Linked DNA regions of Homo sapiens: regions 1, 2, 4 and 5 are each linked to region 3. The links come from fine-mapping of genetic effects on gene expression. A gene starts in region 3. Each other region holds a variant in brackets. All regions are shown on one strand. Distances are between the middles of the regions. Region 1 overlaps DLG5 (discs large MAGUK scaffold protein 5). Region 2 has its middle 44 kb from the start of DLG5-AS1. Region 3 holds the start of DLG5 (discs large MAGUK scaffold protein 5). Region 4 overlaps DLG5 (discs large MAGUK scaffold protein 5). Region 5 overlaps DLG5 (discs large MAGUK scaffold protein 5).

Evidence for each region.
Region 1: its variant is fine-mapped to the expression of DLG5 in whole blood (TOPMed, PIP above 0.99).
Region 2: its variant is fine-mapped to the expression of DLG5 in tibial artery (GTEx, PIP above 0.99).
Region 4: its variant is fine-mapped to the expression of DLG5 in blood mononuclear cells (TOPMed, PIP above 0.99). The same link has a PIP of 0.9 or more in lung.
Region 5: its variant is fine-mapped to the expression of DLG5 in whole blood (TOPMed, PIP above 0.99). The same link has a PIP of 0.9 or more in pancreas, subcutaneous fat, thyroid, tibial nerve and transverse colon.

What each region holds. Positions count from the first base shown.
Region 1 is chr10:77,834,212-77,839,211 of GRCh38, reverse strand. It overlaps DLG5 (discs large MAGUK scaffold protein 5), which reads left to right. Exons shown (of 32, transcript NM_004747.4): 8 at 3,290-3,474. Among named protein-coding and RNA genes, the nearest start is that of DLG5, 90 kb to the left of the region's middle. RefSeq lists an enhancer at 1,604-2,224 and a silencer at 2,646-2,918. The variant C/T (reference allele first, on the strand shown) is at 2,758.
Region 2 is chr10:77,968,530-77,973,529 of GRCh38, reverse strand. No RefSeq gene overlaps it. Among named protein-coding and RNA genes, the nearest start is that of DLG5-AS1, 44 kb to the right of the region's middle. RefSeq lists enhancers at 1,985-2,279, 1,912-2,422. The variant T/C (reference allele first, on the strand shown) is at 1,929.
Region 3 is chr10:77,923,683-77,928,682 of GRCh38, reverse strand. It overlaps DLG5 (discs large MAGUK scaffold protein 5), which reads left to right and starts at 1,928. Exons shown (of 32, transcript NM_004747.4): 1 at 1,928-2,466. The coding sequence starts at 2,163. DLG5-AS1 (DLG5 antisense RNA 1) reads right to left here and starts at 1,871. Exons shown (of 1, transcript NR_024585.1): 1 at 1-1,871. RefSeq lists a silencer at 59-235.
Region 4 is chr10:77,791,083-77,796,082 of GRCh38, reverse strand. DLG5 (discs large MAGUK scaffold protein 5) reads left to right here. Exons shown (of 32, transcript NM_004747.4): 29 at 1-22; 30 at 1,125-1,234; 31 at 1,966-2,075; 32 at 3,540-5,000. The coding sequence ends at 3,643. Among named protein-coding and RNA genes, the nearest start is that of DLG5, 130 kb to the left of the region's middle. The variant T/G (reference allele first, on the strand shown) is at 2,605.
Region 5 is chr10:77,817,540-77,822,539 of GRCh38, reverse strand. DLG5 (discs large MAGUK scaffold protein 5) reads left to right here. Exons shown (of 32, transcript NM_004747.4): 15 at 439-1,458; 16 at 2,522-2,645; 17 at 3,075-3,219; 18 at 4,651-4,763. Among named protein-coding and RNA genes, the nearest start is that of DLG5, 110 kb to the left of the region's middle. The variant C/T (reference allele first, on the strand shown) is at 3,047.

The DNA.
Region 1 (5,000 bases), 89 kb after region 3:
GAGATCTTTGAAGTTAATCGTGAAGACTGTTTGTAGAAATATAGAAAGCACAGAGATGCACAAAGAACACCTGAGTTCCCTGTGGTGCTGGCGTCCAGCAATGAGACCTCCAGGCCTGACGTCCTTGCGGCAACCACCGCATTCCCAGCACTCAGGCGAGCCATTCAGCCTGGAGCCCGCCTCCATCCTCCACAGGGGGTGTTGACTGGGCATCAAGTGCACCTGTCAGCTGAGGCAGGGATCTTTTCCAGGCCCTGTTCCGAGTCAGCAGGCAGGAGAGAGCCCCCGCGGCTGCCCCATCAGCTCTGAGAGCTGAAATCCTCAGCTCCTTCTCAAGTTGGTCTGGCTTCATGGATAAGAGAGCACTCTCCACCGGCAAGAGCAGACCAGGAGGGGTGGGCAGTGAGGCACCCTGGGGATTGGCCCCGCCACCCCACTGGCTGCTGCCTGTCAGGGGTCAGCTGTGGGGGGCCTTCTGGCAGGTCTAGCTCCCTCACCGCAGAGCCATCTTCATCTTGCTCAGCCCGAGGGCTGGGCTTCAGTTTCTGGCATCGTGCTTGCACGCTTCTGTCTTCTATCTGCACGTCTTGCTCCATTTTCCCCTTTCCTTCTCTATGCCCTCTCTCCCTTCTGTGTTCTGAGTGGGCTGAGGCAAAGAGGGAGCAAAGAGGTAGCATGGGGAGGCCGGGGGCCTGTCAGGATCTTTGCCAGGTTGGCTGTGCCCTTGCCTCCCTCGCCTTCTTCTTCCCAGCTCCCAGGGGAGAGATATCCTCGGGAGCTCCCCTAAGGCCGCCCTCCTGCCTCAGGCCAGTAGCTGACCTTGTCCGGGGAAGTCTCATTGCTCCCAGGAGGAGGGAGGAACTGCCTGGGGAGTTGAGGTCGGCACCACTGGAAGCTGTAGGCCACTGCTGTCTGTTGCAGAAATCTCCCAGGTTCCAACGCACTTTCCTAGACGGGCCCTGCTCACCGAGTTCCGTCTGTAGAAGGGCAGCCCCCCATGCTCCTGCCGTCTGCTGCCCTGAATGCAGTTACACATGCAGCTACAGGTCCTGCTTGAGGAGCTGAGCTCAGCTGTGGTGGATAGACTGGACAGTGCCAGGGGACAAGGCAAGGCAGCAGTGGCCTTTCCAGAACTTAGAGGCAGAGGGCTGTTGTAGCAAGAGAAGCTTCCCAGGAAGCAGAGGGAGGTGCCCTCACCCGAGAGCCATCTGCTCAGGGGCACCACTCCACACTCGGGCCCCATCCTCCCCTGGGACTCTCGAGTGGGCTCTGGCCCTCTGGGGCTGGGTTGCAGCCCATAGGCCTTTCTCACTGGCCTCATGCCTGGGTCTGGCAAGTGTCTTGTGAAGACTAGCCCATCTCTTCCCACGCCTTTGTTCACCCAGCACAGGAAGAAAGAGACTGCAGGTGGCGCTTTTAGAGCAGACTCAGACTGACATCTGATGCCGAGGCAGCCTGGGGTAGAGGAGCCAGTACTGATCAGCTCTGCAGGATGGGGGAGCCCTGGCGAGTCACTTCTAGATCCTGCGGTTCCTCACCAGTGTAATCAGAATCAGTCAGTCCGTCACTTGGGTCCTCTGGGCTTCCAAATTTTACCATTTGTTTAAGGTACCTCATTTCCCTCTCCCCTCTCACTAAAACTAAGTATAGTACTTCTTGTATTCCTTATAAGGAAGCAGTATTTTGGGGATGAATTCATTTTGGATACCAGCAATGGTGTGGGGCCCAGGGAAAGGAAGGGAGCTGTGGGCTGGGGGAGCTGCCCACCTCCTGCGCTGCCTGTCGTCCTGTCTGCACCTGGGGCCTCCCTCCTAGATGCTCATCTAGAGCACCATGGAGAAACCTTTCAGGGAATCCACGTGGTAACGTGTCAGCTCTAAAACTATCCATAAATATATTGTAAAACAGCAAATATAATGTAAATTTTTCAAAGTATTGTTTATCATAAATTCTTGACTAAATTAATACACTTTTTTTTTTTTTTTTTTTTTTTTTTTGAGACCGAGTCTCCCTCTGTTGTCCAGGCTGGAGTGCAGTGGCGCCATCTGGGCTCACTGAGACCTCAGTCTCCCAAGTTCAAGCAATTCTCCTGCCTCAGTCTCCCATGTAGCTGGGACCACAGGCACATGCCACCATGTCTGGCTAATTTTTGTAGTTTTAGTAGAGATGGGGTTTTACCATGTTGGTCAGGCTGGTCTCAAACTCCTGATCTCATGTGATCTGCCTGCCTTGGCCTCCCAAAGTGCTGGGATTACAGGTGTGAGCCACTGTACCCTGCCCCCAAATAATTCTTTTTAAAATGAAAATTTAAGAAGGATTTTTTTTTTTGAAAATAGCAAACTAAACAAACACAGCATACCATGTAAAGCTGAAAAAAAAATCAAAACTGAAATGATTTGAATGACCCCCAGAAACCGTGAGGTCTGAGGAAAGCCTGCCACTGCACTGTCACCCTCGAGTTTTGATGGTCCTTTTTGTGCAAATTATTTTTCAGCTCCTCTGCCTCTGTTTTCAGAGATGAGGGGAATTATCAACTGACTCCAGGTGTTTTCTTGTCAACTTCATTCTCTTCTCTTGTTTTCTACGTCTGAGATCTTTCTGAACACATTTTTGTAGAGGCTGCTGTCTCCTGCTGTCTGGAGAATGATCTTTAGAGGGAACGGAAGCTTTCTTCCTGTGCGTGTGTGTCTTCCTGTGTCCTAGCACTTGGGGGTGGAGAGTCTCGGGGCGGGGACACCAGTGTCATCAGCGCCTCTG[C/T]TGTCGTGCTTCTCTTTTGCATGTTTGGAAAGCCTCAAGCGGGAGGAGGAGTTATTCTTGCAGTAAACACTTGCTTTGTCATCCGTCATTTCCCTGTGTTGTCTAAGGATTATAGAGGTGTGGAGGGGGTTTTCATATGAGTGCTACTAAGAGTTTGACTTGAAATTTTAGTGGAGCATATAACTCTCTAGGGATGTGTCAAGATGCAAATGCTTTGGATTTCAGCTTTTTAAATGAACTGAGATACACAGCACTTCACCAGCAGGAATACTGGTGTATTTTTGTCTTTAAAAATAACTCAGTATGCCAGATTATAGGATCACAGACATGGCGGGGGCTAGGGGGTGCTGGTTAATAGGACCGTGGCTGTGGGGTGCAGTCACTGGGGGTATGGGGTGTGCTGCGATGGGCTCCGTGTTTCCCTCCATCCAGCTCCCTAGAGCCTCAGCCTTGGCCCCCGCACTGGTGGGAGGCGCTCCTGGTCCATGAGGCTCAGCAACCTCTCCCTCTTCCTGCCCCTTGCTCCCACCAGATCAAAGACACGGTGACAATGGATGCTGGGAGAGCCAACAAGGAGGTTGAAATCCTTCGAAAGCAGTGCAAGGCTCTGTGCCAGGAGCTGAAGGAAGCCCTCCAGGAGGCGGATGTGGCCAAGTGCCGGCGGGACTGGGCCTTCCAGGAGCGAGACAAGATTGTAGCAGAGCGTGACAGCATCCGGTATGGGGTGACCTCAAGCTGGCGTGGGCTTGCGTCTCCCCAGGATGAGGGGACCTGCTAGGGTCTGTTGGGAGGGTCGGAATCATTTACTGTATGTCCAGGTAAAGTGGGAGGGACCTGGGCTCCTCCTTTCTCACCCCTAGTTGATGCCCTAGCCTTGCCTCTTAGTTTTAGAATTTTCCATTGTTTCTCCCTCCCATCTCACTCAGCCCTAGGTGTCCCAAGTGTGTACTATGTCCACGTGAGACCGCTGTGAAGGGGCACGAGGCCGACCTCTTTTATTTGAGGGTTTCTGATGAGAAGAGCACATCCGAAGTGTGTCCTTTCAGCAGTATTCACCGGGCGCCTACTGTGTGCCAGGGTCTTAGATCTCTGGAGCAAGGAGACCTTGGGAGAGGCTTGGTCAGGCACGGCAGTGAGGGAGGAAGATGTGTAACTGAGCTCTAGGGCTGTGGGGGGCATGCAGGGCTCCCTGGGGTGTGGGGAGGTCTCCCCAGAGAGTGTGGCATTCGCACTAGAACTGGAAGCATGAGTGGGGTTTTTCCAGGTGGAAAAGGGGGAAGGGCATTGCAGATGGAGGGCACCTGTGGAGTGTGCTCAGGGCAGGGACGTGGGCAAGTCGTGGGGAGGGCAGGCTGGCGAGATTCCCAGGGGCAGGTGTAGAGGCCTTGAAAGGGAAGCCAAGCAGTGTGGGCTTGATCCTTGGCTGGGGAGGAACCAGGAGAGGCTATGGTGGTGGTGATGTTTGGGGTGGGGAGAGATAATGTCTTGCTATTTGGGAGGTGTCCAAAAGATTTCTTGTGGTTTGTCAGGGGAGAGACCAATGTCTCTAGGGGCTGGTCAGGAGATGAGGATGGCTAGGTGGTGAGGCCCTGCTAATGGAGAGCACAGTTAGGTGCCCAGTGCAAGGGGAGGGAGGCCCAGGGGCTGCTTCCTGTCTGCTTCTGCTCAGACCCCTTCCACGGGTGTCTCCAGGGGGCAGTCCTCAGCCAGGCTCTGACTGAGGCTGGGGGAGATTCGAGGCTGTGGAGAGGTAGGAACCAGTCCTCTGGGTATGTCCATTTCTGGAGGTGGCACAGAGCCCAGGCCCCTCCACAGCCAGGTAATCTGTTTCCACCTCCTTGGGGTCCTCTTTCATAGAGTCTTGCCAAGCTTGTACTTTGCACCTGCACAGAGCTAATAGAGACAGAGATGCATGAGGACTGGCTGGTATCCGAAGGGGCTCCCTTCCTAGTTGCAGGGTACAGGGACAGCTCTAGAAAGCTCTGCCTGTGGGTAGATATGAGACATGTGGTAGTGCTGGAGCACAGGCCTGCCAGGCAGGTGGGGGGTGCTTCATGCAGAGGAGAGCCACCCCCTGGCTCCCCAAGTTGGCATTAGAACAGTGAGTGTGTGCAGAGGGTGGTCCTTAACCCCAGGCACATTGAGGGTGAAACAGGGCATTGGGAACCTGACACTTGTTGCCGGGTGACTGTGGGGGTGTCTCTTCCCTGCCCAGGTCCTCCACATTCCCTCTGTCATGCACT
Region 2 (5,000 bases), 45 kb before region 3:
CCCAGCTGGTCTCGAACACCTGGGCTCAAGCAATCCTCTCAAAGTGCTGGGATTACAGGCGTGAGCCGCCATGCCCAGCGTCAATTCTCCCTTTCCATCTGGTGCACATGAACAAATTACTTAACCTCTCCTTGCCTCACTTTACTCATTTATAAGCTAGGAATACTGTTTAGTAGTGTTTGACTCATTGGGTCATTGTGAGTTTTAAACGTGATTACACATAAAAAGGTCTTAGTACAGTGCCTGGCACATAATACACATTAAATGTTTGCAATTATTAATACAGTGACTTTTTTTTTTACTGAAAAACATGGTCTGTGAATTCACAACTAAAAACCAATCCCCTGGCTCTCTTTATTTGACCCTAAGTGGAGCTTGGTGGACTTGGGATCCAGCCTCCCTAGACATAATGACTACCCAGCTGTCTGCTCAATCAGTAGGTCGTGGGAAGTATTTTACATGGGGGGGGAGAAGGGTTCGGGAAGGGGATGGATGTGGCCACTGTGTGGTTGAGGGCTTGAACACTTTAATGCAGGCCATAAGGTAAGCGTGATCTCATTTTAGAGTCACAGGTAGTAAGACCAGAATAATTCAGACAGGCAGGTTTTTTTGTAGAGGTATGGATGTTGACAACAGCTATGTATTTAGATTATGTAAGAAGGTATCCCATAAGGGAGAACTTAACATTTTTCTCTCTCTTTAAAAGAATATATTAGGGCCGGGCACAGTGGCTCATGCCTATAATCCCAACACTTTGGGAGGCTGAGGCTGGTGGATCATTTGAGGTCAGGAGTTTAAGACCAGCCTGGCCAACATGGTGAAACCCCGTCTCTACTAAAAATACAAAAATTAGCCGGGTACTAGTGGTACACACCTGTAATCCCAGCTACTCAGGAGGCTGAGGCAGGAGAATCACTTGATCCTGGGAGGCAGAGGTTGTGATGAGCCAAGATCACGCCACTGTACTTCAGTATGGGTAACAGAGTGAGACCCTGTTAAAAAAAAAAAAAAAAGAAGAAGAAGAAGAATGGAACAGAAAATGGGTATGACAAGGACAGAGGTAGGAAGTGACCCTATGTTTTTTGTTTGTTTGTTTTCCCAGACAGGTTCATGCTCTGTCGCCCAGGCTGGAGTAGAGTGGCGTGATGATCTCGGGTCGCTGCAACCTCTTCACCTCCCAGGCTCAAGCAGTCCTTCCCATCTCAGCCTCCAGAGCGAGTAGGACTACAGGCACATTGCCCAGCTAATTTTTCTTTCTTTTTTTTTTTTTTTTTTTTTGGTAGAGATGGGGTTTCACCATGTTGCCCAGGCTTCACTCTGTTCTATTGTACCTTTCTAATTTTGTACCTTCTGAAGGTCTTGCCAGTTTTTGTTTTTTTTTTTAATCAATACCTAGCAGCCTGGGCAACATGGCAAAACCCCATCTCTACAAAAAATACAAAAAAATTAACTGGGCATCATGGCTCACATCTGTGGTCCCAGCTGAGGTGGGAGGATCAATTGAGCCCAGGAGGTGGAGGCTGCAGTGAGCCAAGATCCACTGCATTCCGGCCTGGGCAACACAGTGAGACCCTGTCTCAAAAAAATAAATCAACAGCTGATGGTAAAGAAATCCAGTCATCTTGGAGCAGACCCTGTCCGGGAAGGTACTTGAGTGTTCTCAAGGTAGTTGAGTGGTCCCTTCCAGTGATAGCAACGTAAGGCTGGTAGGCACCAGTCACCAGTTAGGACAAGGTGACCAAAAAATGCAAGTCAACAAGCCTGAAATACATAGGATTTTCTTTTCTGACATGAAAAGTCCACAGTAGGCATTCCAAGGCTGATACGACAGTTCACCAAGTTGTCGGGGAGGGACCCAGGCCCCTCCCAGCCTTCTGCTACACCACCCCTCCACCATTCCTCATGGTTCAATGTGGCTGCTGAGGTTC[T/C]AGGCATTCCAGCCAGGAGAAGGGGAAAGAGACATAGCACTTCCCTTTAAGGAAAGTTCCCAAAAGTTACTTGACACTTCTGTTTACATCCCATGAGCCAGAACTTACGTAGCCAAACCCAGCTCCAGAGAGGCTGGAAAATGTTTGGACTCTGGGTGGCCATGTGCCTAGCTAAAAATAGACGCCTCTGTTAGCAAAGAAAGAGGGGGAGGGCCACAGGAAGTGGAGGATGATCGTATCTCTGCCTCTGATGGGCAGGACCTTTCTTTTTTTCTTTTTTGGCTTGACAAAGGTCAGAATATCCCCCTAATCCCTCAGAAAAAAGAGACTGAGACCCTGATCCCTTCATTCTCCCTTTTCCTTTCCCCTTCTTGCAAATTTCATGCTTGAGTTACGGTGGGGTTTTTTTGTTTTGTTTTGTTTTAAATATATAAACTGACATTTAAATTAGATCACATTCCCTTTGCAGGCTGTTTAAAATGTTTCAGGGCTGATGGAAAATGTGACTGTCAAACATTCATTCAACAAATAACACTTTTTTGACCCCCTACTATATCCTGGCGCCAATACCAGGTCCTGGGTTTAGAATGATGAGCAATATTCCTATGGCTCTTTTCCTTGTGGAATTAATCTAGTCACAGCACTGTCCAGCAGTACTGTAGTATATAGTAATATAGATGACAGTAATTATGTAAGTCATATGTAATTTGTTTTTGTTTTTGTTTTTGAGATGGAGTCTTGATCTGTTGCCCAGGCTAGAGTGCAGTGGCGCAGTCTTGGCTCACTGCAACCTCCACCTCCTGGGTTCAAGCAATTTTCCTGTCTCAGCCACCCAAGTAGCTGGCAGTACAGGCACACGCCACTATGCCCAGCTAATTTTTTCATATTTTTAGTAGAGATGGGGTTTCACCATATTGGTCAGACTGGTCTTGAACTCCTGACCTCACGTGATCCACCCACCTCGGCCTCCCAAAGTACTGGGATTACAGGTGTGAGCCACCACTCCTGGCCCATATGTAATTTTAAATCTAGTATTGGCCAGGTATGGTAGCTCACGTCTGTAATCCCAGCACTTTGGGAGGCTGAGGCAGGAGTACTGCTTGAATCCAGGAGTTTGAGACCATCCTGAGCAACATGTCAAAACCCTGTCTTTACAAAGAATACAAAACATTATCCAGGCATGGTGGCACGCACTTGTAATCCCAGCTACTTGGGAGGCTGAGGTGGGAGGATCACCTGAGCCTAGGGAGAAAAAATGAGAAATTAATTTTAACAATGCATTTTATTTAACCCAACGTACCCAAAATGTCATTTCAACATGTAATCAATATAAAAATGACTGAGATATTTTACACTCTTATTTTCATACTAAGTTTTCCAATTCCAGTGTCTATTTTACACTTAGCACATAGCGAGTTTCACATGCTCAGTAGCCACATAGCCTAGGGGTTGGCCATTCAGCTCCTCCATTTACTCTCCAAGAACTTTCCAGTAAATGCTTCCTGGGGCTTAGGCTAACCAGAAATGATTTTCTATTTCCTGCTAGCCTGGCCCCAACCCTGAGACCTGTATGAAGGTGGATAGTCCACACTCAGAAAAGAGAAGCAGGATGGTAGTCATGGAAGCTGGAATCTGCCAAGGAGTATGGAACAACTCACCAGCCAAATGAACTCGTCCTAAAAATATGGATCTAATTTTTTTAAAAAAGAAAAGGCCAAGTGCAGTGGCTCACACCCATAATCCCAGCATCCCAGCACTTGGGAGGCCGAGGTAGATGGATCACTTGAGGTCAGGAGTTCGAGATCAGCCTGGCCAACATGGTGACACCCCATCTCTACTAAAGATACAAAAATTAGCCAGGCATGGTGGCATGTGCCTGTAGTCCCAGCTACTCGGGAGGCTGAAGCATGAGAATCGCTTGGACCTGGGAGGCAGAGGCTGCGGTGAGCCAAAATTGCGCCAATGCACTCCAGCCTGGGTGACAGAAGAAGACCCTGTTTCAGGGGGAAAAAAAAGAAAAAGAAAGGAAAGGGAAAAAACATGAAGAGAGCCCAGTGTATCCAGACCCGAGTCTCATCACCTTCTCAGGAAGCTTTTTGGGTTGTCCAGGCCTTAAGTAGGCCTGTGCTTCCAAACTTCATTTCTGGGAGGAGTGCCAGTGGGCTGGGGAAGTCGGAGGCTAGAAGAAGCCTGTTCTTGTACCTTGCAGTCTGTTCCACCACCGAGGAACAGGCCTGACCCGAGTGGCCTGCAGTAAAGCTCCGAGTCAGGGAGCATGGTATAATCACCTGACACTGGTGTTACAGGTAAATCACAATCTCTCCCCATAGACAACATGATCTTCCTCATGTACAAGATAAGCTACTTATTCAGTAAGACAGCACTCAGGGAAGTATGAATTTGCAGATCTGGTGATAAATCCACTGGTCTGGCAGAAATGGACCTGGACTGGGATAGCCATGACTCCAGTTCTAGCCACCTTTCTGCCTGCCATTAGCGGCATTGCCTTCGGCAGGCTGCCTCCCTTCTGCATCTGTTTCCCAGTCTATATAGTGGAGATTAAAGTCTCAGCCATGCATTTCTGCTTCCAAGCATCCGTGAGGCATCTAGAAGCTGGAAAGCTTTGTACATCGCTTAGGCAGAACACGCGGAGGGAGCTGGTCACTGCTGATGGAGTCTCAAGTATTGGCTAGCTCCTTCCATACCTCACCCTCTTACCTTTCAGGAATTGTCCTGGGACCTGAAGCTGAGCCCCAAGACGGTGCCTGGGACCCCCCCCCAACCCGGCCCTGGTGTCAGTGTGTGCCACAGCTTACCCTGCTGTTCTCTAGGCCCCTTCCCTAATACTGAAACTACTGTCTAACCTGGGTGGTTTTTTTTTTTTTGCATTTTGGAGGGGGGATGGGGAGAGGGGGGACAGTTTTGTTCTTTTTGCCCAGGCTGGAGTGCAATGGCATGATCTCAGCTCACTGCAACCTCTGCCTCCTGGGTTCAAATGATTCTCCTGCCTCAGCCTCCTAAGTAGCTGAGATTACAGGCACACACCACCATGCCCGGCTAATTTTGGTATTT
Region 3 (5,000 bases):
CCACTTTCACCTTCCTTCCTCCAACTAGCTTTCTAGTTAATCCAGCTAAGAACACAGGTGCCGGATGAAAGGTGCCTGAAAGGTGACTGCCTTGCAGATGATTTAAGCTCTGGGGTTGCCCTAAGGGAAGTGGCGGCCAGAAAGAACTATATCTCAGGAGCAGGACTGGGAGGGAAGAGCCAGGGAGCCTGTCTGGAACCCTGATACTGTGCAATGGCCAGCCTTCCACTCCTCTAAAACCTTGCTTAGCCATAGAGGGTCAGACTACGGGAGCAGGCAGGTATCTTTAAATAGTTCATTTCTGCCATATTGGGGTCCATCTGGAGGTCTTAAAGAACTTGTAACTCTATGGACCCCATTCCAGAAAAATATATAAATGTTCACAAAAAAGTTGAGATCATGTCAAAAGCTTCATTGACATCCTTGAGCTTATTCATGAAGCCAAGGCTAAGAACCCCTGATCTAATATTCTCCCTCCACCATTTTTCCTAAGGACAAAACAGATCAGCAAGGATTATTGGTTTGTTCCACCTTGTGCAGCTGCTTAGAGGGGAGTCCAAGTCCAAAGTGCAAATTCTGATACTCTTGTTCTTTCTACCATATAGTGAGTTCGTTTCCATAAATAAAAACGACTTCTCCCCTTGAAGAAGCAGACTAAGAAGACACTGCTTTTTGAGGGAAGGGAGGAGGCATGTGGCTGGGACTGGCAGTGTGGGTAGACAAAGTGCCTCTCACCCCCAGCGAGATCCACTCATTCCAACGTAGATATTTGAAATGGACCTGGGTTCCCACTCTACAGAGGAGCACTGCGGGATCACTGAGCGCAGTCAGAGTTCCAGCTTTGAAGGACCTTGTCCTGCAGTCAGGGAGGTAAGCAGTATGTGTCCACAAACGGCTGTCGTGGAAGAGAAGACATTCTTGGGCTTTAAGGGGGACTGCAGATCCTTTCCAAGTCATCAAAGGAAGCAAGGTAGTCCGCTGATTTGTCTCCCTCTGAGACATTTAGGGGGAGAGCGCCTCACTTGCCAGAAAGACCAAGGACTGCACCGCAGACACCCACCTTTCTTTTCCTCATCCGGCGACACATCCTTCCTCCTGCCAACATCCTAACTCCTTTACACTCTGGGGACCAGCTCTTCTCAAATGCTGGCGCGGGGAACAGCCTATTTACCGCAGTTGAGGCGATTTTACTGGGAAATTCTCTTAGGAGCTCCTTGGAGAGGGAAAGCCTCACGGATTCGGCGGAGGTCTTAATCTGGAGATGTCCAAATTTAGGGGAAACCCTCCCCACCATTTGTCTCCAGGCTGTATTTTGGAGTTCTCAGATTAGGACCCTCTGGACTGGGGGCAAGATTTGTATGAGGGGGTCTCCAGCAGCTTGTGGGCTGGCCGCGTGCCAGGCCTGACTCCGTGTCCCCCACCCCCGGCTGCGCCTGGGCCTCGGGGGACCGGGAACCAGCCGGCGCCGCGTCCCCGCCTAGCGGGCGGGCCGGGGACCCCTCCCCTCCGCCCGTCCCCTCCTCCCCTGCTGCCGCCTCCCGGAGGGACGGCCTGGGGAGGGGAGAGAGGAGGGACGGGCCGGCGGCGGCGGGGCTGTGGCCACGGGGGAGCGGGTGGCGGCCGCGGGGCCCCGGTGAGCCGGGCCGGGGTGCACGGGGGCCGAGGCGGCCTCCGAGCCGGGCCGGAGCTGTCGGGAGCCTGGGAAACACGGCCCAGGCGACTTTCTCCCGGGAGTTGTAGTCTTGCTCTGGGGGCGGCGCGCGGCCCGGCTTTCGGGGCGAGTTTTCTCGCGGGGCGGGCGGCGCGCGCGGAGGCTGAGGGGGAGGGGGAGCATGCCCGGCTGGAGCCCGGCCTCGGGGCGCGCCCCGGCCGCCGTCCCCACCTCCGCCTCCTCCTTCTCCTCCTCCGTCTCCTCCTCCTCCTCTTCCAGTCCCGCCGCCGCGGCAGCCAACATGGCTGCGCTCCGGAGCCCGGGAGGCGGCCGCTGCTGAGCGCCGCCCGCCGCCCCGGGCCCCCAGCCCGCCCAGGCCCCGGCCCATGGCTCCCGCCGCCTCACGGCTCCCGGCGCCCTAGGGCTGCTGCCGAGGTGCTCGCCTGCCCGCCCGCCGGCCTCGGGGGGCCCGGGAGGCGTCCGGCGGGGCGGGGCGGCGCGGCCCGCCACCATGGAGCCCCAGCGCCGGGAGCTGCTCGCCCAGTGTCAGCAGAGCCTGGCCCAGGCCATGACGGAGGTGGAAGCCGTGCTCGGGCTGCTCGAGGCCGCGGGAGCGCTCAGTCCCGGCGAGCGGCGGCAGCTGGACGAGGAGGCGGGAGGCGCCAAGGCGGAGCTGCTGCTCAAGCTGCTCTTGGCCAAGGAGCGGGACCACTTCCAGGACCTGCGGGCGGCGCTGGAGAAGACGCAGCCTCACCTGCTGCCCATTCTCTACCTGAACGGCGTCGTCGGGCCGCCGCAGCCCGCCGAAGGCGCGGGTGAGTGGCAGACCCTTGGCCCCCGCCTCTGGGACGCGCCCTCCGCTTCTCCCTCCTGCTGGCCGAGGGTACCTCGCCGGGGCCGCCGCTCCACCTGGCGATGGCCTCGGTGGACTCGCTCCTCTGGCCCAGTTGGGGAGGCGGCGGTGCGCGGATCCCGAAGTCCCGCCGCCTCCCCCAGTCCCGCCGTTCGCTGTGAACAATGCCCCCCGCTGAAGGCCTTCACTCTCAGGTGCCTCGACGACAGGGTCCCCGGGGGCCACCAGGTCCAGTAGCGGGTAGGGGGTACCTCGGAGGATGTCCATCAGTCCCTTTTCTGAGGCTCCTCACCGTCCGCTAGCTTTGGCACCCTGTGCTAGCCTTTAACCAAGGGTACCGTCCAGAAGAATGGGACTTGGGCCAGGACCCCTACTCTTAAGTTTTGGTCGCTGCCATCCTGTGCCGGGGCCACAACTGCTTTTTCATTTTCTGGCTGTCCCAGCTCCTTTTTCTCTGCTCAGAGCCCAGTCTCTCCCAGACTGGTGGCTGATTGTGCACAACGCCTGCCTGGGTTTCTTTGGAAACTGGGCCCGGAAAAGTTGGGGAAGTTGCATTGCACCATGGGAAAATCCTAGTAGTGGCTGCTGGGGCTAAGTTCTCTCCCTGAGAGCACAGAGCTGCTTAACGAGGAAGGCTGGTGACTGGTTCCCTTGAGGGTGCCTTTTGGAACCCCTGTGTCTTTGGTCTTGGGGATGACTGATTTGTAAGTGTGTGTCTGGGTGCAGGAACGGATACTGGCGGGAGTTTCTGACAAGTGGTAGGCTTGTCCTGGCCTGGCCGTGGAGTGTGGAAGCCAGCCTTTTTAGACAAGGCAGCTGGAGGAAGAAGACATGGCACTGAGGGAGGAGGAGAACTAGCATTTATTGGGCATCTACTGTTGTGGCAGGCGCTCTGCTTTATCACGTTCAGTTGTCGTTGCCACTATGTGAGCTTTCTGTTATTCTTTGCCAGAGAGAAAACTCTGGCTTGGAGTGGTTAAAATGCTCAGAAAGTATTGGGCACCAGGAATTTTGAATTATAACCTATTGTTTGATTTAACTTGTTCAGAGCCAGGAAACAAAGTGCCATCTTTCTAGGTCTTGTCCCTGTTTTAACAGTGAATCGATAGGTACAGTAAAAATAAATAAGGATATATGTATAAAAGAAAAACAAGTGAACCGAGAGGGCTGAGAAACTGCCCTTAGCAACCTGAAGGTCAAAGGCTGATGGGACCCATTTATTTGGCTGTTAAAAGCCCCACTTATTAAGGGAATGATTTTATAAGGCATTCCTGGTAACAGCTCTCTTACGTTGGCCATCTTAACCTCAATTTTTGTAGCTGCAGGAAACTGACAGAGAGACTAAATTGCTGGCCACACAGCAGGTCATTTCATTGGTGGCCCTCCCGTCTCCACTTTGAGCTTCTGACTTGCATCTCTGTCCCTCAAACCTGCATTCTTTCCCCCCAGTTGTGGTCATGTCAGAGTTACTGGGCAAACCTAGTCCTTTCCTGGGATAGTGCTTTGGGAGATGCTAGGAAGGGACTGTCAGATGTGGCCATGAGGATAAGGACAGAGGGGATCTCAACAAAGTAATTTTTTTCTTTTTAATTGTATCTATGTATCTATCTAATCTATCTCTGAATGAAGAAGTTAAGATCTGTTTCTGAAAGTCTTTCGTAAAGCACAGAACTTAGTACAGACTGGAAGTCTGCGTTGGGAAGCATGTGAATCAACGCTCGCCTTAATCTCTGAAAATTGATTGATGGATCAATTGCCATTAATTAGGTCTCACCCTTTCCGTGTCTGGTGGAGAATGTGGGGCCTCATGGGGCTGAAGTTCTAGGAGCTAGTCTTGACCTCTAAGGAAGGCAGAGATTAGGGTTTGGATTTTATCCCCTAGGGCATTGATTTCAGACCCCAGTTTTACCACAATGCAGAGTTATGTGACTTTGGAGAGGGTCATGAAATCCTTAGAAAAATACTTTTCAAGGAGAAGTTAAGTTCATTTTACTTAATGCATTAGAAAAACGCTGGTTGGGTGTGGTGGCTCATGCCTGTAATCCCAGCACTTTGGGAGGCCGAGGCGGGCAGATCTCTTAAGGCCAGGAGTTCGAGACCAGCCTGGCCAACATGGTGAAACCCCGTCTCTAATAAAAATACAAAAATTAACTGGGCGTGGTTGTGGGCGCCTGTAGTCCCAGCTACTTGGGAGGCTGAGGCAGGAGAATCACTTGAATCTGGGAAGTGGAGGTTACAGTGAGTTGACATGGTGCCCTTGGATTCCAGCCTAGGTGACAGAGCAAGACTCCTTCTCAAAAAAAAAGAAAGAAAAAAGTTAGGACAGCATTTGGTATGGCAAGATGCCACCTGAAGCCCCTGGGGAAGAGGGTGACATGGTGTGTCAGCAAACAGTGGCGTGTTGGGGGCTTTTGTTTTTTTGAGACAGGGTCTCACTGTGTCACCCAGGCTGGAGTGCAGTGGCACAATCTCGGCTCACTGCAGCCTCCGCCTCCT
Region 4 (5,000 bases), 130 kb after region 3:
AATAAAGGAGATCACAGAAAAGGTACCCAGGGCTTCAGTCTGAGGATTAGGCATCCAGTATTAGACCTCCTGTGCACAGGTCTAGGCCCCTGGTCCGTGATCCTCTGCCCCAGCGGCTCAGACCTTCAGTGAGCCCACCGTGTTGTGTTAGTCTGAGTTCACCTGTGCCTGGGCTTGCCCTCATGGCTGCTGTGTGTTTCTGCAAGCACATCCCTTGGTGGGGATGGAGGAGTTCCCCTGTGTATGTGCCGCCCCATCTTCCTCTCTGGCAGGTGCGGGGGGTCTCATCTCTGATGAGAGTATTGAGCTCTGCGGAAAGGCCTCTCGCAGGGCATTCCGGAACGGGGTCCCCAAATGCATGTGCCGAACAATTTCACATGCACCTTCTGGGGACAGGAACGTGCCTTCCCTCAGGGTCCCTGCCCCTAAAAGGGCTATGACTCTCGGTGCCTTCGAACATCCTAGGCAGCACGAGGGCGGGGACGTCTGTGGGGAGTGCTGGTGGGGCAAACACTCGGAGTCCAAGGACACAGCCGCTCCTTGGGCTCCATTTCTCCAGGCTGCTCAGCTCGCTCGCTGGGCTTTGCTTCCCTTCTCTGTTAGATGAAGGTGTTGGCTTCTCACTGCTGAAAGTGGGCAAACTCTACTTGGGGGAATGCCCCAGTGGAGCATCTGGGGGTCGGGAGTGCACGGGCCTGCACTCCACCTGGATGCCTGGGACGACAGACATGACAGACATATTTCAGTCTCAGCCACACAAAGGCTCACCAGACTCTGGCTCTTCATTCGCTCAGTCTGGCAAAAATAAGGCTTCAGAGGCCAGGGTGGGGCAGGGCTTTCAGAAGGTCCCTGTATCTGGGCAAAGGCGGGAAAGGAAGTTTGGAGTTGGGCTGGCCAGCACCCCTAGCCCCCTAAGCCCTGGCTCCCAGCCTTGGCCTTCCTCACAGCAAGTGGGGTTTGTTGGGAGTTTCGTGGGTATGGTTTCCCCACGGTGTACTGTGTGGCTTTACTGCCTTGTTTGTGGGTAGAGCCCTGTGAGGTGAGGTGGGTCCTGCTGGTGGCAGGACAGGGGGCTGGCTGCCCCTCACTGCCCGCCAGGGCTCACTCTGCACCCCCCACCCCAGAACCGACACTGCCTCCTGGACATTGCTCCGCACGCTATTGAGCGGCTCCACCACATGCACATCTACCCCATTGTCATCTTCATCCACTACAAGAGCGCCAAGCACATCAAGTAGGTAACTGGCCCCCTGGGCTCCGCTGGGGCCTTGTCACAGGTGGGGCTGGGAGCCCAAGTAGGGAGCAGGGTGTGTTGGGGTGGGGGGTTGAGGAATGAGAGATGGGCCTATGGGTCTTGAAATAGGCAGTACGTGTAGAAAATGACCCTTCCCTGTCGGCCCTGTCCCCTACTCAGAGGTGGTGTCAGCCAAGCGCAGCCCCTTCCTCGCGCCCCTCCGCCATTTGGGTGCTGCCACTGTTTTTTGGGCATGGCCAGCTTGGTCTGCACAGCTCCCCTCTCCTGCCCCAGCCCCCTTTCCTCGCTACGTGCTGCTTAGGAGCAGGGGAGCCAGTGGCCTGGGCACAGTCCCACTCAGCCCCGAGCTGGCTCATGACTCAGGAGCCGTTGCCTTCGCTGAGCTTCGGCTCCTGTGCTGGTTGGGCCAAGGGCTCACCAAGGCCCTGCTCCATTTTGCCTTTCTGTGCTGCTGAGCTTCTGGGACCTGCGCTAGGGGCTGCTGGTGCATCTGTTCCAAGTGTGTGTGCTGGGGGGCCCTCCTTCCCCCATCTGCCCAGAGCTCCCCCGACAGCCTACAGGCTGTTGCTGTGCTTTATGTGGGGAGCACATGGGGCCTCCCTCCACAGCCTACCCCTGCCTTGATGGGGCCCCTGTTAGCCTGGACAGAGGAAGGAAAGAGGGCCTGGAGGAGGCTCAGTGCTCAGCCTGGTGTCTGGCTGTCCCCACAGGGAGCAGAGAGACCCCATCTACCTGAGGGACAAGGTGACTCAGAGGCATTCCAAAGAGCAGTTTGAGGCGGCGCAGAAGCTTGAGCAGGAGTACAGCAGGTACTTCACAGGTAGGTGTGCGTGGGCCTGGAGTGGGGAGCAGGCAGCAGGGAAGGAAGCAGAGGCTTCCTAAGGCTGTTTTCTTAGCCGTGGAGAAGCCCGCACTTTCTACATGCTCCCAAGTGCTGTCATGAGCACGTTCCTGACAAGTCAGGTGTTCAGATTGCAGTCCCTGGCCAACGTCAGGATTCTTACAGGTTGAATGTTAAGCTCACCGATCTTGGCCTCAGGTCCTGCCTGGCTTGCCTGCTCATTTTCACACGTGCAGTGGTGGGTCTGTCTCATAGCACAGGTGCAGTTTAGTGCAGCCACAGTGTCCCCAGGCAGGGCGGGGACTGGAGCAGCCCCCAGTGTGCCAGCAGTGTGGGCAGCGGAGGCTAGGGGCCCATCTGTCCCTAGCACCCTCCAGGGCAGTCCCGTTTTGCAGCGGGATTTGGCAAACCCCCCTCCAAAAAAAAAAAAACAAAAAACAAAACAAAAAAAAACAATGCTGTCCCCTTACCATCTCTGGTCTTCAAAGTGAAACAAACTCAGTGAAGT[T/G]TGGTTCTATTTTACCTTCTGGCCTTCAGCCTCTTTGGGAAAGTCTGTCATTTGCAGGGCATTAGCATTTGCAGTCACAGAGGATGGGACAGGGATTCTAACTGCATTGTGGAGAGTGTTATGATCTAGTCCAGGGACCTGGGCTTGGTGCCCATGTGTGTGTAGGTATGTGCAGGTGTGCATGCCTCTGTGTGTGTGTGTGTGTGGGTGTGTGTGTGAACTTTCATTTCCAATTCCTCACAGACTGGTATTTAGCCAAATACACTGACAATTCCTAGAGAGATGAAAATTTAAAACTCTAAGTCTTGCAAAAGGTAAGCTCTATTTTTTTCTTGTTAGATTCAACAGACATAAAATTACGACGTCCTGTTTCCATAGCAGTTTCTAGACACTCACTGTCAATTTCTGAGCATGCCTTGTTGCAGTAGGGGCTTGGTTTGTGTCCAGGTGCTGTTATGTGGAGCACACTGGAGTACCCCTGGCCTGGTGTCTATAGACCCCTTTGTCAAACTCCTATAGTACAGGGCTGGCCCAAGTTGGCGCCATCATCTTTCTGTGACTCTCCTCTTGGCCATGAGCTATCTGGCTCCTTAAACTTGTCGTTTCCTGCAGAATCCTGCTAATGATTAGACCACCGCCACATGTCCTCCAAACTTCCTTCTGATGCCCTGGGATTCCCCCAACCATTGCAAACCCAACCCAGGGTGTTAACTGCAGTGGGGTGGGCAGTTTACATATGAGTGATCAACTCAAGAGGGGCAATTTTCTTTCCCAGTTTCTTGCTGGTGAAGGAGAGTCAGGTGGGGATGGAGCAGAGTGCCAAGGAGCACAAAGCAGACAGCCACACAGTAGAAAGAGTGCAAGCTGTACTGCCTTGCCTCAAACCTGGGGTCTTACTCTGAGCTGAATGACGTGTCTGGGGGGCTCTTTTGCAGGGGTCATCCAGGGAGGAGCCCTGTCAAGCATTTGCACTCAGATCTTGGCAATGGTCAATCAAGAACAAAATAAAGTCCTGTGGATTCCAGCCTGCCCGCTCTAGGAGAATGCTGTGCTGTGGATGACTGCAGCTGGCCGCCTGAGGGGACACCAGACTCAGCTCTTTTCTAGCGACTGAAAGTAGAAGTCTGTCCGTCTATGAACATGCGGGGGAAGGATCCGGAACCAGGACCCAGAAGCACCTCCTTTGTAGACAGAGGGCCACGGCTGCGTGCGATCCAGGCCCAGGCCCACACACTCTGCCCGTGTCACACGTGTGCTTTAACACAAAACAGATAACACTAAAGACGGGTTCAGCACCCACCTTTCTTTAGCCAGCTGATCAGAGATGCTGCAAAGAGAACCTTTCGGATCACTCGTTTACAAGCCTTTTCTAAGTATTTGGTGGTTTATGTTTACTTGAACGGCTCCATGTTGCCGGTGCCCAGCCCCTGTCCCCTCTGTCAACCCCCTGTCGCTTTGGTGTTGGTTTCGTTCCCGTCTTCAGCAAAACGACCTTGGAACCTCAATGGGGGCTGCTTTGCTTTGGGAGGTTCTTGTTGGTGGGACCAGAGCTTTGACAAACCTCCTGCTCCTTGGTGGCACCTCTCCTGGAAGGACGTCACAACTCCAGGTGCTCAGACTGCCTGTGGCAGCAGAACCAGTGCCTTTGGCATTTTCCTCCCACAATGGGGAAGGTGACTTTGGCATTCTTACAAACTCGTCTCTCGGCCTTTCTCTCCTGCCTTCCACAGCCTCTCGTTTCTCCTCCATCTGTGCTTATTACTTGAGGACTGTGTCTGCTCCGTGAGAGCTGCGTGGGCAGGGCTGCAGTGGGGTCCAGGTGGTGTTCAGCTGTGCTGATGCCTGCCATTGGGTCCTCCTTAGGCTCTGTAAGTCGTGACAGCCTTCATCAGTGCAATGTTTGCAGGGTAATTCTTAAACTTTTTAGAGGGTGGCAGGTACATCAGTTCTTTTTGATATGAAAACATTCATGTTTCAGACATTGAATTGAGAGCTTTTAGGGGAAGCATAATGGTTATTGTCACTATCAACAGTCTAAAAAGAAAAACTGAGGTCTTTTTAATCTTGATTACAGCACTCACGGCATGCACCCTACTCAGTGTGGGTGTCTTCGTTTGGGGGCTTTTTTTTTTTTTGCACTTCTGAGGCTAGATATGTCTGGCTGAAGATTTGATGTGGTTCCTCCTTAAGCTATGCGTCCTGTTAATAATAGGTACTGTACTGGGCTCTGTGTAAGTGTCGTTGGGGTAGGACCTATATTTTAATACTGTTCCTAACATTTCATTTTACTAGCGAGAAATCTTTGATTTCATTTTATTCTTTGTAATTCTAGACACTAGATTGTAGTTTAGCCATAACTGATGTTTTTTAAAAAGGGATATATTTTCTTGCACAGT
Region 5 (5,000 bases), 110 kb after region 3:
CCCAAGTAGCTGGGACTACAGGTGCATGCCACCGTGCCTGGCTTATTTTTGTAATTTTTGTATAGATGGGGTTTCACCATATCGGTCAGGCTGGTCTCGAACTCCTGACCTCGTGACCCGCCTGCCTCAGCCTACCAAAGCGCTGGGATTACAGGCATGAGCCACTGTGCCCGGCCCAGATAATTTCAGAAAGTGTTCAAAGTTAAGAAAACTTTGACTCTTCTTTGAGTTCAGAGTGACCAGAGCCATGAGAAAACTTATCCATTAGGGAGAAGCATATGTGTTCATGTGTGTGTGCATCTCTGTCTATCTGTCTCTTTTTTAAGGGGCAGGTGGCCCATTCCTGACCATTGCTTTACCTCTGGGGATGGTTTTCAGTGGCAGCTCCAAGTCCTGCCATCTCACTCTCTCTCTCACTCCTCTGCAATCCCTGCCTAGGTATTCCCTCAGAGCTCCTCGTGGAGTGGCCAGAACATTTTTGAAAATATCAAAGACTCTGATAAGATGCTGAGTTTTCGAGCCCATGGCCCGGAGGTCCAGGCTCATAACAAACGGAACTTGATACAGCACAATAACTCCACGCAGACAGACATCTTCTACACGGACAGGCTGGAAGACAGGAAGGAGCCAGGCCCCCCAGGAGGCAGCAGCTCCTTTCTGCATAAGCCATTCCCTGGGGGACCCTTGCAGGTCTGCCCCCAGGCCTGTCCCAGTGCCTCTGAGCGTAGCCTGAGCTCCTTCCGCTCAGATGCCTCTGGGGACCGTGGCTTTGGGCTGGTGGACGTGCGTGGCCGGCGGCCACTGCTGCCCTTTGAGACCGAGGTGGGCCCCTGTGGGGTTGGGGAGGCCTCCCTGGACAAGGCAGACTCTGAAGGCTCCAACAGCGGCGGGACCTGGCCCAAGGCCATGCTCAGCTCCACGGCAGTGCCTGAGAAGCTCTCTGTTTATAAAAAGCCAAAGCAAAGAAAGTCCATCTTTGACCCTAACACTTTCAAACGCCCCCAGACACCCCCCAAAATAGACTACCTGCTTCCAGGTCCTGGGCCTGCTCACTCTCCCCAGCCCTCCAAGAGGGCGGGGCCTCTGACACCCCCAAAACCTCCCAGAAGGAGCGACTCCATTAAGTTCCAGCACAGGCTGGAGACTAGCTCCGAGTCAGAAGCCACTCTGGTGGGCAGCTCCCCATCCACTAGTCCCCCGAGCGCCCTGCCCCCTGACGTGGACCCCGGGGAGCCCATGCACGCATCACCCCCTCGCAAGGCCAGGGTCCGCATTGCTTCCAGCTACTACCCTGAAGGAGATGGGGACTCCTCCCACCTGCCGGCCAAGAAATCCTGTGATGAGGACCTCACCTCCCAGAAGGTGGATGAGCTGGGGCAGAAGCGTCGCCGGCCAAAATCTGCTCCCAGTTTTCGGCCGAAGCTTGCTCCAGTAGTGATTCCTGCTCAGTTCCTGGAGGTATAGCTGAGCCCCAGGGTGTGGGGAGGGGAGGCCTAGAGAGGGGCAGTTGGCCGAAGGAGGGCTGCTAAGTGGCCCTGCACCAGTGTCCCAGGCCCCTGTTTAGCCTGGTGCCTTTGCCTTTGCTGTTGGACTCAAGTGGGAAGTGGCCCAGCTAGGAGGTAGGTAAGTGGCGTGGAAGTGCATGGTAGTGGGAGTGTGACACAAGAGGGGAACACTTTATTGGGCATAGCATTTGGTTTGCTTTTTTAATAAGAAGCTTTTGAACTTACACAATAAAACCTAGGGCATAGACTTGCCTTGAAGGGCTAGGGAGATGAGGTGGCACGTGTGAGGCTGAGTGGGCAGCGGGACGGCCTGATTGCGTGTGCTGTCATAGTTTCCAGAAGGGTGAGATTGCTGGGGACTGTGGAAAGCATCTCAGGCACCAGTCCACACTGCTCACTGGGGACAAAGAGCTTCGCACAGCCCTCCACATCGGGCAGAGTTGTACGTGCCTGATGCACTTGTGCATTCTCACCTTTTACGTGATCTCTGTGAAAGATTCATTCTCTGTGGTTTTCTTCTGAAGTAAAGCTGCTTCCTTGAAGATGTGTAAGGCAACATGAATGGGCAGCGTTCCCATTCATGTCCCTTCCTGTGCCCCAGTGGGAGGAGCTGGTTCCTGGGGGGCAGAAACTGGCTTGCAGAGCTGCTCAAGCGTTCCACTGTTTGGTTTTTTTTTTTTTTTTCCCCTAAGATGGAGTCTCACTCTGTCACCCAGGCTGGAGTACAGTGGTGCAGTCTTGGCTCACTGCAACTTCTGCCTCCCGAGTTCAAGCGATTCTCCTGCCTCAGCCTCCCAAGTAGCTGGGATTACAGGCACCCACTACCATGCCCAGCTAATTTTTGTATTTTTGGTAGAGACGGGATTTCGCCATGTTGGCCAGGGTGGTCTTGAACTCCTGACCTTAGGTGATCTGCCCGCCTCGGCCTCCCAGAGTGCTGGGATTATAGGTGTGAGCCACTGCGCCTGGCCACACTCCACTCTTTCTAGCAGACACTCTTGCCCTTGCATCTGCAGGAACAGAAGTGTGTCCCGGCCAGTGGAGAACTCTCCCCGGAGCTCCAGGAGTGGGCACCTTACTCGCCTGGGCATTCCAGCCGGCACAGCAACCCCCCGCTATACCCTAGCAGGCCGTCTGTGGGTGAGTCAGCCAGCCAGGGGCTGGGGCTGAGGGTCGGTGTAAACTCGGGATGCCTAGTCTCCAGGGAGAGGGGAGGCAGCATTTCAGAGAGCTGCCATGTGTTTTCAGCCCTGAGGTCCAGAGAACTGGGAAATGCTGTCCTGTCTGGGATGGTTTGTCTTATAGCCATGACATGTCTTAGCTTGTCAACATGCTTTCTCCCCATAGCAACCTGGGAAATAGGAAGCATGAAAGAGACTTCCCCCCTTTTTACAAATGGAGACAGGCCAGGAGCCACAGCCACATTGTGAATTGGTGGTTAAAACTCATCTCCCAAGTCCTTTTCCCAAAAGACTGCGGCTGCGTCCTGGGATACAGGGGAAAGGCTTGTGTAAGTCCTGGGCTGGCTGGGTCCTTTGGGG[C/T]GTCTTTTCTCACCAAGCCCATTTCTAGGCACTGTTCCCCGGAGTTTGACCCCCAGCACCACTGTGAGCTCCATCCTGCGGAACCCCATCTACACTGTGCGCAGTCACAGGGTCGGCCCCTGCAGCTCTCCACCTGCGGCCCGAGATGCTGGCCCCCAGGGTTTGCATCCCAGGTATGTGAAGGCACCCTACGCTTCTCTGTACTCCAGCTGCCCAAGCCTGCCTGGACATGGAACCATGAGTGCATAAAGAGGCTCATTGGTGGAGAAGCTTCCTTGCCTGCCTGGGAGGGGACTGGCTAGAGCAGCACAGGGAAAGGGAGCCTTAGGGCTGCTTTCTGAATTCATCAGCACAAGGTTTCAAAAGGTACTGGAAGGACACGATAGTGATAGCAGCTGATGTTTGAGTGCTTATGTCCCAGCCACTGTGCTCAGACCTTTATGAATATCATTTCACCGAATCAACAGCAACCTCATGGGCTAAGTCCTATTACTGTTTCTGTCTTGAAGATGAGGAAACTGGTACTTCATAAGAGGGTGGGCTGGCTCCAAGCCACTCTTATTCATTCATTTGACAGATATTTTTTGAGCACCTACTACATGCCTTGGTCTATCCTAATTATAAGAGGATACATTGCTGAACTAAACAAATTAGCTTCTAGCTCATGTCGTGTGGTTTTTCAAATGTGGGAGGCAGACAAAAAAAAAAAATGAACGAAGTGATATCAGATGGTGCCAAGAGGCTATGAAGGCAGTCAAACAGGGTGACAGGCTGGGCTGTAACTTGGAAGAGGGTGGCAAGTTAGAGTGGGTGGTCAGGAAGGGCCCTGTGGCAGAGGGGATGCTGCTGTGACCAGAAGGATGAAAGAGGCCAGCTGCACAAGACCTGGGCTGGAGCCTCCAGGGAGAAGGGCCATCGGTGCCAAGGCCAGGGCACCCAGGCACAGTCGTGGGAGCTTGTCAAAGGGGCAGCGAGTCAAGAAGAGGTTTGAGGTCACAGGGCACAAACCCTGTGGGACCTGCAGCGGTGATGAAGAGTTTGGATTTTATTCTAAGGACAGTGGAGACCACTGTAGAGTTTAAGCAGGGAAGAGATGTCACCTCATTACATAGCTGGAAAAAGATGCTGTTGAGGCCTGGTCTCAGGGCAGCCTGATGTGGGCGATCCCTGCTCTGCCCTTCATTTTCTTAGGCACGCTGTCCCGAGTGAGGCACATAGGTCCCCTCCCCAAAGTCCTCTGTGCCTTGTCTCTCCTTACCCACTTCCTGGGAGGACAGGTTCCCCCTCCCCAGGCCCACCCAGGTTGCAAAACCTCTGTTTTTTATCACTTCTTCCTAGTGAGCCTAATCCTGACCCTATGGCTGGAGTGGGTATGATACTGACCGCCCCATGTGTGTGGCCCTTTCTACTTCCTGAAGGCTCTTAGTGGATGCCACCTCCGGGAGTGGCTGAGGGCAGCCTGCTATCCTCGGCTGATAATCAGTGGCTCCTGGGCCTCCCTTCTGCCCGCTTGGGAACCCTTGCCTGGTCTGTGTGTTTCTCCCCAGTGGCCACATCTGTTCCTGGTTCTCCTCCCGAACTCCTCACCTCTTGTTTTTACGCAGTGTCCAGCACCAGGGACGCCTGAGCCTGGACCTGAGCCACAGGACCTGCAGCGACTACTCCGAGATGAGAGCCACCCATGGGTCCAACTCACTGCCCTCCAGCGCCCGCCTGGGTAACTGCACCACTTGGACTTTGTGCTGCAGAGGGTGCCAAGCTTTTCATCTCTGCCTGCATCCTAATGTCCAGATCTGCGGGTGGGCTCCCCACACGAGCTCCTGTCACCTCCTGGGACTGAGCTCATTTCTCTACTGGGAAGGGCTGCTTCCTTCATGGGCCAGCCATGCCCATGCTGCTGTCAGAGCCATTGCTTTCGCCTTCCGCTTTCTGTGGGGGCCTTATGGTCATTCAG